Linked DNA regions of Homo sapiens. The protein of the gene in region 2 interacts with the protein of the main gene of each other region in a pairwise test. Each region holds a gene or a part of one and is shown on either strand. Other genes may lie near its edges.

The links. Proteins that work in one complex are often made in the same cells at the same time.
Region 1: the proteins of TMX2 (region 2) and SFXN1 interact in binary tests that used the Homo sapiens proteins (3 or more experiments, as listed by UniProt).

Annotation. Positions count from the first base shown.
Region 1 is NC_000005.10:175,481,560-175,485,059, reverse strand, and holds part of SFXN1 (sideroflexin-1), read right to left. Parts: intron 1-3,500. UniProt on the Homo sapiens protein: Amino acid transporter importing serine, an essential substrate of the mitochondrial branch of the one-carbon pathway, into mitochondria.
Region 2 is NC_000011.10:57,719,093-57,722,592, forward strand, and holds part of TMX2 (thioredoxin-related transmembrane protein 2 isoform 1 precursor), read left to right. Parts: intron 1-3,500.

The DNA.
Region 1 (3,500 bases), on a different chromosome or scaffold from region 2:
CAGATAACATTTTAATTATTAACCGTGATGCCATGTTTCAATTAGGCAAGACTTCTTTCACGCATGAACTGACTTCCACCTTCAAGCTCAGGAGCAGCCTGCACTCCAGGTAAATTGATCCATTTTTAAAAAACAGGAGCCCCACTTAAAAAACAAACAAACATCAAAACTTATTTCCTATTCACATTAAAGTCAACAGCACTGAGCGTGGTGGTGCGCACCTGTAATCCTGGCTACTTGGGAGACTGAGGTGGAAGGACTGCTTGAACCTAGGAGGTTGGAGACCACACTGGGCAACATAGTAAAACCCGTCTCTAAAAATCAATGGGGTCTAGCAAGCGCGCTGACACGGAGCGCTCCTTACGCACGGGGCCTGGGCTGAGGAGGATGCGCCGAGACGCGCCCTGTGCTGGCTCCATTTTGTGTCTAGAGTCTATTCAGGGAGCGAGATGCTGGTATCCTTAAGGCCTTGGCCGCTATGTGGGGATCCCCAGGGTGCACCCTTTTCCACCCGCAGGGGTCAGGGCTGGCCGGGCCACTTGGTTGGTCCGCAGCATTCCGGCGTGCACCTGCTGGCCCCGGGCAAGGCAGAGATGCGCTGAGGGCATGTGCCCCGCACACCTGGTACTGACGGGTCAGGAGGGCCGGGTTGTGGGGCGGGACTGCTGCGGGCACCATCGTGGGGAGGGAACGAGGTCATGGGGTGGGGGTGATTGTGCAGGAATGGCCTTTGTTTTTCCATGGTCTGGCTTATGCAGCCATCCATCTGGCAAATTATGGCCCCTGGGCTTGTCTGGAAGGTTGAAACTGGGTAAAGATCAAACATCTCGTTACAGAGGTGTCTTGAACATCAATCACAGTCTTTCATGACCTAGGATAGGGACAGTGCTAGGACAGAGGCTTCTCGACTCCGGATTTCTGCAGACTGCGCTGGAGGAAGTCATGCTGCACAGCCTTGTGCTGACACTGGGAACAGGAATAATCATGAAACCACAGATACTTCAAAAGAAAGTTTTGGAGAACAAGATGTTTGCGTTCCCACTGCAGATGCGGCAAGGATCATGAAGAATGTCCCTCAGAGGGACACACTACACGGGACGCCAAAGAATGTGTTCCAGAGTGTGTGGGTTCATCAGCTTCACGGCACCTGAAGCAAGTGAAAGATGCCAGGGAGAGTGCGGAGACAGTCAGTGGGGAGGGTGCTCTCTTTGCCCTGTTCACCTGAGGCTTTGAGAGTTATGCAGAAGCGCTGGGGTGGTGCCTTCAGGCACTCAGAGAGGCTAGGAGACAGGGGAGCAGGCCCCAGTCCACCAGAGACACAGAGGGACCTAGGGAAGCTGTGGAAGAGGCGCTTACTGAGCAGTTATTAGCTGGCTTCAGGACTGCAGAAAGGCAGCAGCAAAATGTTATGGTTTACACAGCGGCACACTGGCAGGTTTCTCATGTCCAGCAAGCTCAGTTTTCACGAGCTGAAGAAATGGTGCAATGGGGTGTGGAGGGAAGAGAAAGGGGCTAGAACAGACGCGCTAGAAGAAAATGATTGGTGACAGACGGTCTCTGTGTATTGCACTAGCTGTAATGTGGCTTCCTGGTGCTCGGACAACTGAGGTGTTAATTCTAAGAATCTTTTTCATGAATGATTTTAAAGAAATTTTTGGATTTTAACGGTATTAAGAAATTTTGGTGGGGTATGAGAAAAAAGTGGGACTTAAAAAAATTCTGTGGTTGGCTGATGCCACTTATGCTAAGAAGAAAAATGACTTTGAGGTTTTATCACATAAAGACATTCTCACAATGATGTCGGCTACCTGGAACTGTTAATAATTATGACATTATACTGCATTTGAGTGAACAGATTATTTTAGAGATGATATATGTTGAAAAATTATTTTACCCCTAAAAAGAGACGGAAATAATTTCATAGAGAAATTAAAAACTGTTTAAATTCAATCTTTTAACTAAGGTTTTGAGTAAATATAGTTTCATGGAGCCTCATCCCAATAGATTTCTCAAAGTCTTTTTATTTATTCATTCACCAACAAAATTAACTTACGCCTTCCATATCCACTGAAGGCCTCTTATGTACTCAACACTGGCTTGGTCCTGGGTTTGGAAAGACCGAACACACAGCTGTTTTTTTCTGGCTGGTTTTTGCTGATGGAGGCCCCCCGCCCTGTGGTGTAATTTCCCGAGCATCTACCCTGATAACCTATGGAATGAGAACCGGATTTAAGCAAATATAATCTAGATTTCAGTCCTGATTCTATCATTTCCTTTCTAGACATGTGACTGGGTGAATTACTTTACACCTCTGAGCCTCAATTCTGTCATCTATAAAACACAGGTAAGAGTTGGCTCATAGAGTTGGTAGGATCAGCAAACTGAAGAGTATAAGAGGCCTTTATTAATCTTTATTAAGTTACCAAACAAAAGTGGGATCATTATTAACAAGCTGGTTTTCCACGAGTGGAAGCTCCTGTCCTCACTGGCCACAGTCCCGTGCATAAATGCAGCTCCTGGGGCCAGGAATGGCTCCTGAGCTTCCTGAAGATCATCAGAAACATGTAAGAAAAAGAATTTATCTCCAAGATAAATTTTATTTCAAATTTTTAGCTGCATGCTAAGAAAATGCTTAACTGCTGGAGAAAAAAAGAATTTTCCAAAATTTTGTAGAAAACAAGTTAGCAGGGAATGTGCTTTATGAGGAATTAGTACAAAGACCTTTAATCTTGGCTAAAGAGTACCAATGATAACTGCGTTATTAAGCTGGAAAGCTGTTGGTCAAAACTACCGTATTTTGAAAGAGTTATGAAAGGGTCTGATTGCCCAGTTTGTTTCACTAGGGCCAGGCAGGTGTGAGACAGCCGGTCAGTCACTGCTGTCCACTGTCCAGGGGACATGACGGAACACCCAGACACTAGGCTTTCCATGCATTGTTAGATTGCTAACTCCTTATGACAGCCCTCCAAGATCTTTTCCCCTGTTTTATAGAGCCGCTCGGAGAAATTTAGTACCATGCCCAAGATGACACAGCCTTCACAGTTCTGTCTGACTTTGAAACTCAATTCTGACCCTTGGAGGCCAGAGAAGATGTGTCTGCCAAGGACAATCACACTAACTCAAGGAGCCTAAAAACCAAATTCCCTGATTTCTGTTGGGCTGGTCATCTGCATATAGTGGCCTTTTTTATGGGCATGGCCACACAGGAGATCGAATTATAGATCAGAGAGTTGAATTCTGTGCAAAGCATTAGATTCATTCTATTTCCACTCAGCAATGGATTTGTGTTGCATATGCTTCCCTGTTCCAGGATAGTTCTGCATGGAGACGTTGGGCCTGCCTAGCATCAGGAAGACATGGAGAATCAAGGCCTCCTGCCTTTCCCACTGCCATGTTCTCCCCTCCCATGCAGATCCCACTATTCTACTAACTTTAAAACACCCATGTGCCAGGCGCGGTGGCTCACACCTGTAATCCCAGCACTTTGGGAGGCTGAGGTG
Region 2 (3,500 bases):
TGGTGCAATCTTGGCTCACTGCAACCTCCATCTCCTGGGTTCAAGCGATTCTCCTGCCTCAGCCTCCTGAGTAGCTGGGATTACAGGTGCACGCCACCACGCCCGGCTAATTTTTTGTATTTTTAGTAGAGACGGGTTTTCACCATGTTGGCCAGGATGGTCTCGATCTCCTGAACTCGTGATCCAGCTGCCTCGGCCTCCCAAAGTGCTGGGATTACAGGCATGAGCTACCGTGCCTGGCCAATTTTTTTATTTTTTAAAGGCTTTCTGCTTTTTCTCTTTTGGATCTCATGCCCTGGGAAATTTTTTCAGTTCACTGAAACCCCCTTTAAAAAAAAATTATGTTTAGTCCTTGTGTTCACTTCCTTTCTTGTTGGCATGATCTTTGCTGAGAAAAATGTAAAATTTCTTTTTTCTTTGTCTTTTTTTTTTTTTTTTTTTTTTTTGAGACAGGGTCTCACTCTGTTGCCCAGGCTGGAGTGCAATGGTGAGATGTCACCTTACTGCAACCTTGACCTCCCGGGCTCAAGTATTCCACCTCAGCCTTCTGAGTAGCTGGGATTATAGGTGCACACCACCACGCCCGGCTAATTTTTGTATTTTTTGTAGAGATGGGGTTTCGCCATGTTGCACAGGCTGATCTTGAACTCCTGGGCTCAAGTGGTACATTTTCCCTCAGCCTCCCAAAGTGCTGGGACTATAGGCATGAACTACTGCACCCTGCCTTGAAAATGTAAAATTTCATTAGCCTTTTGGGGAAGCTTAAAATCTCTCCAAATTGGCTTCTCCAAAACTGGTTGTTCCATGTATTTCTACTTCTTCCTTTTGCCACCTTTGATAACCCTTAAAGGGGTCTAGATGGGACTTCTGACAACCCTGAGATCCCTTGAGGAAGACAAAAAAAAGGTGCCACTGGTTGGGCGCGGTGGCTCACGCCTATAATCCCAGCACTTTGGGAAGCTGAAGCAGGTGGATTACCTGAGGTCAGAAGTTTAAAATCAGCCTGGCCAACGTGGTGAAACCCCATCTCTACTAAAAATACAAAAAAAAAAAAAAAAAAAGGTGCCACTGACCCTCTCTTTTGGGGCCTCTCGTTTTCCTTATAGAGCCCCAAAAGTCACTAATGGGTTCATGTCAGGTTTAAAACTCTTCTCTCTTTTGAATTAAACTCTCTAGTCTTTGGCTTTTGTATCGATACATGTGTCTATATATGTATGTATATGTCTATACATGTGTTTATTGTGTATATGGTACCAATAACGAATGAGTACCCCCAAAAGTCAGGAGTCAACAAATGGAAATTCAAAACAAAACTTTTTCTTTTTTTTGAAACAGAGTCTTGCTCTATCGCCCAGGCTGGAGTGCTTTAGCATGATCTCTACTCACTGCAACCTCTGCCTCCAGATTAAGCGATTCTCATACCTCAACCTCCTGAGTAGCTGGGATCACAGGCGTGTGCCATCACACACGGCTAATTTTTGTATTTTAGTGGAGACAGTTTCACCACGTTAGTTAGGCTGATCTCGAACTTCTGGCCTCAAGCCATCCGCCCGCTTTGGCCTCCCACAGTGCTGGGATTACAGGCGTGAGCCATCGTGCCTGGCCTCAAACTAATTTTTATAAGTGTTTCTTTTTTTTCCTCTGAGTTAAAAGACTTGCATCTGCAATGGACTGTTACCTTACAAGGAATCGAACCCACGCTGCAGCAGCTAACCAGTTTATTGCCAGCCACTAGACCACAGATCATAGTGCCTTTTTGCAGGCCCTTCAGGGGATCCAAAACAAGCAGTTTGAGTGTACAAAGAATTTTAACTTGTGTTTTGAATCTGATTTCTGTCTTTTAAAAATCTTGCCAAGGGAGTTTCTAAGGCTGTGTTCTTTCTGTATCTTTTTATGGGTACTAGAAAGATAGCTGTTTTTTTTTTTTTTCCTCAGGCCAGGTACGGTGGCTGTAATCCTAGCACTTTGGGAGGCCAAGGCGTGTGGATTGCCTGAACTCAGGAGTTCGAGACCAGCCTGGGCAATACAGTGAAACCCCGTCTCTACTAACATACAAAATATTAGCCGGGTGTGGTGGTGTGTGCCTGCAATCCCAGCTACCTGGGAGGTTGAGGCAGGAGAATTGCTTGAACTGGGAGGCAGAGGTTGCAGTGAGCTGAGATAGTGCCACCGCACCCCAGCCTAGGTGACAGAGTGAGACTCCATCTCCAATCAATCAATCAATCAATGTTTTATTTAAATAAATAAATAAAGTTTTTTTTTTTTTTTTTTTTGAGATGGAGTTTTGCTCTTGTTGCCTAGGCTGGAGTGCAATGGCTCAGTCTCGGCTCACCACAACCTCAGCCTCCTGAGTAGCTGGGATTACAGGCATGTGCCACCATGCCCAGCTAATTTTGTATTTTTAGTAGACATGGGGTTTTTCCATGTTGGTCAGGCTGTTCTCAAGCTCCCAATCTCAGGTGATCCACCAGCCTCGGCCTCCCAAAGTGCTGGGATTACAGGTATAAGCCACTGTGCCTGGTCTAAAATGTTTTTTAAATAAAGCCAATTTACTTAGCGACTTAAGCCAATAAGCCTTCTTCATGGAAAGTCTCAGAGGTAATTTTCTAGGTTCAGAATACCAGATGATATAACCCTCACATTCCCCCAAAATATTTACTTTCAAAAATAGGCTAAGATAGCGAAAGACTCTTGTTTTCATAGACAGTTAAGGATGGTGTTTATGTGTGTGTTTCCTGTAGTATCCCACCAATACGTGGGGGGCTGCTAATCATAGACCTATTAATTTGAGACACCAGCTAGGCCCTCCCTGGATTGGACTTGCCCAGGACTAACCAGGCAATAAGAGTTGAGATTTCTTCCTTCTCACTGAAGTAATTTTATTTATTTATTTTTTAAATTAATTTTAAAAATTGAGGGGGGAGACAGGGTCTTGTTCTCTTACCCACGCTACAGTGCAGTGGCATGGTCGCAGTTCACTACAGCCTCAACCTGCTGCACTTAAGCCATCCTCCCACCTGAGCCTGTCAAGCAGATGGGAGTACAGGCACGTGCCAACATACATGCCCAGCTAATTTTTAAAAATCATTTGTGGAGAGGAGGTCTCACTGTGTTGCCCAGGCTGGTCTCGAACTCCTGAGCTCAAGCGATCCTCCCACCACAGCCTCCCAAAGTGCTAGGATTACAGGTGTGAGCCACCGCACCCAGCTTCAGTGAAGGAATTTTTTTAAAAGGAGAAGAAAAAGATAAAAGAGTTGAGACAATAAAATCAGGTGTGAGTCACTGCACCCGGCCCTCTTTCTCTTTTGAAAAGGCCTTGAAAGATGGCTCTCTCCTTCACCTTTTGTTGTGTCCTGTAACTTTTACTAATTATCTAAAGTAAGGGAGAAAAATTGTTTTTGAAAACAGGCAAATAAAGTATCTTTTGAACATGGCTTTTATTCTGCATGCCTGTTATATCTGTATCTTTATATGTGTCATATAGAAGTGATACTTTACTG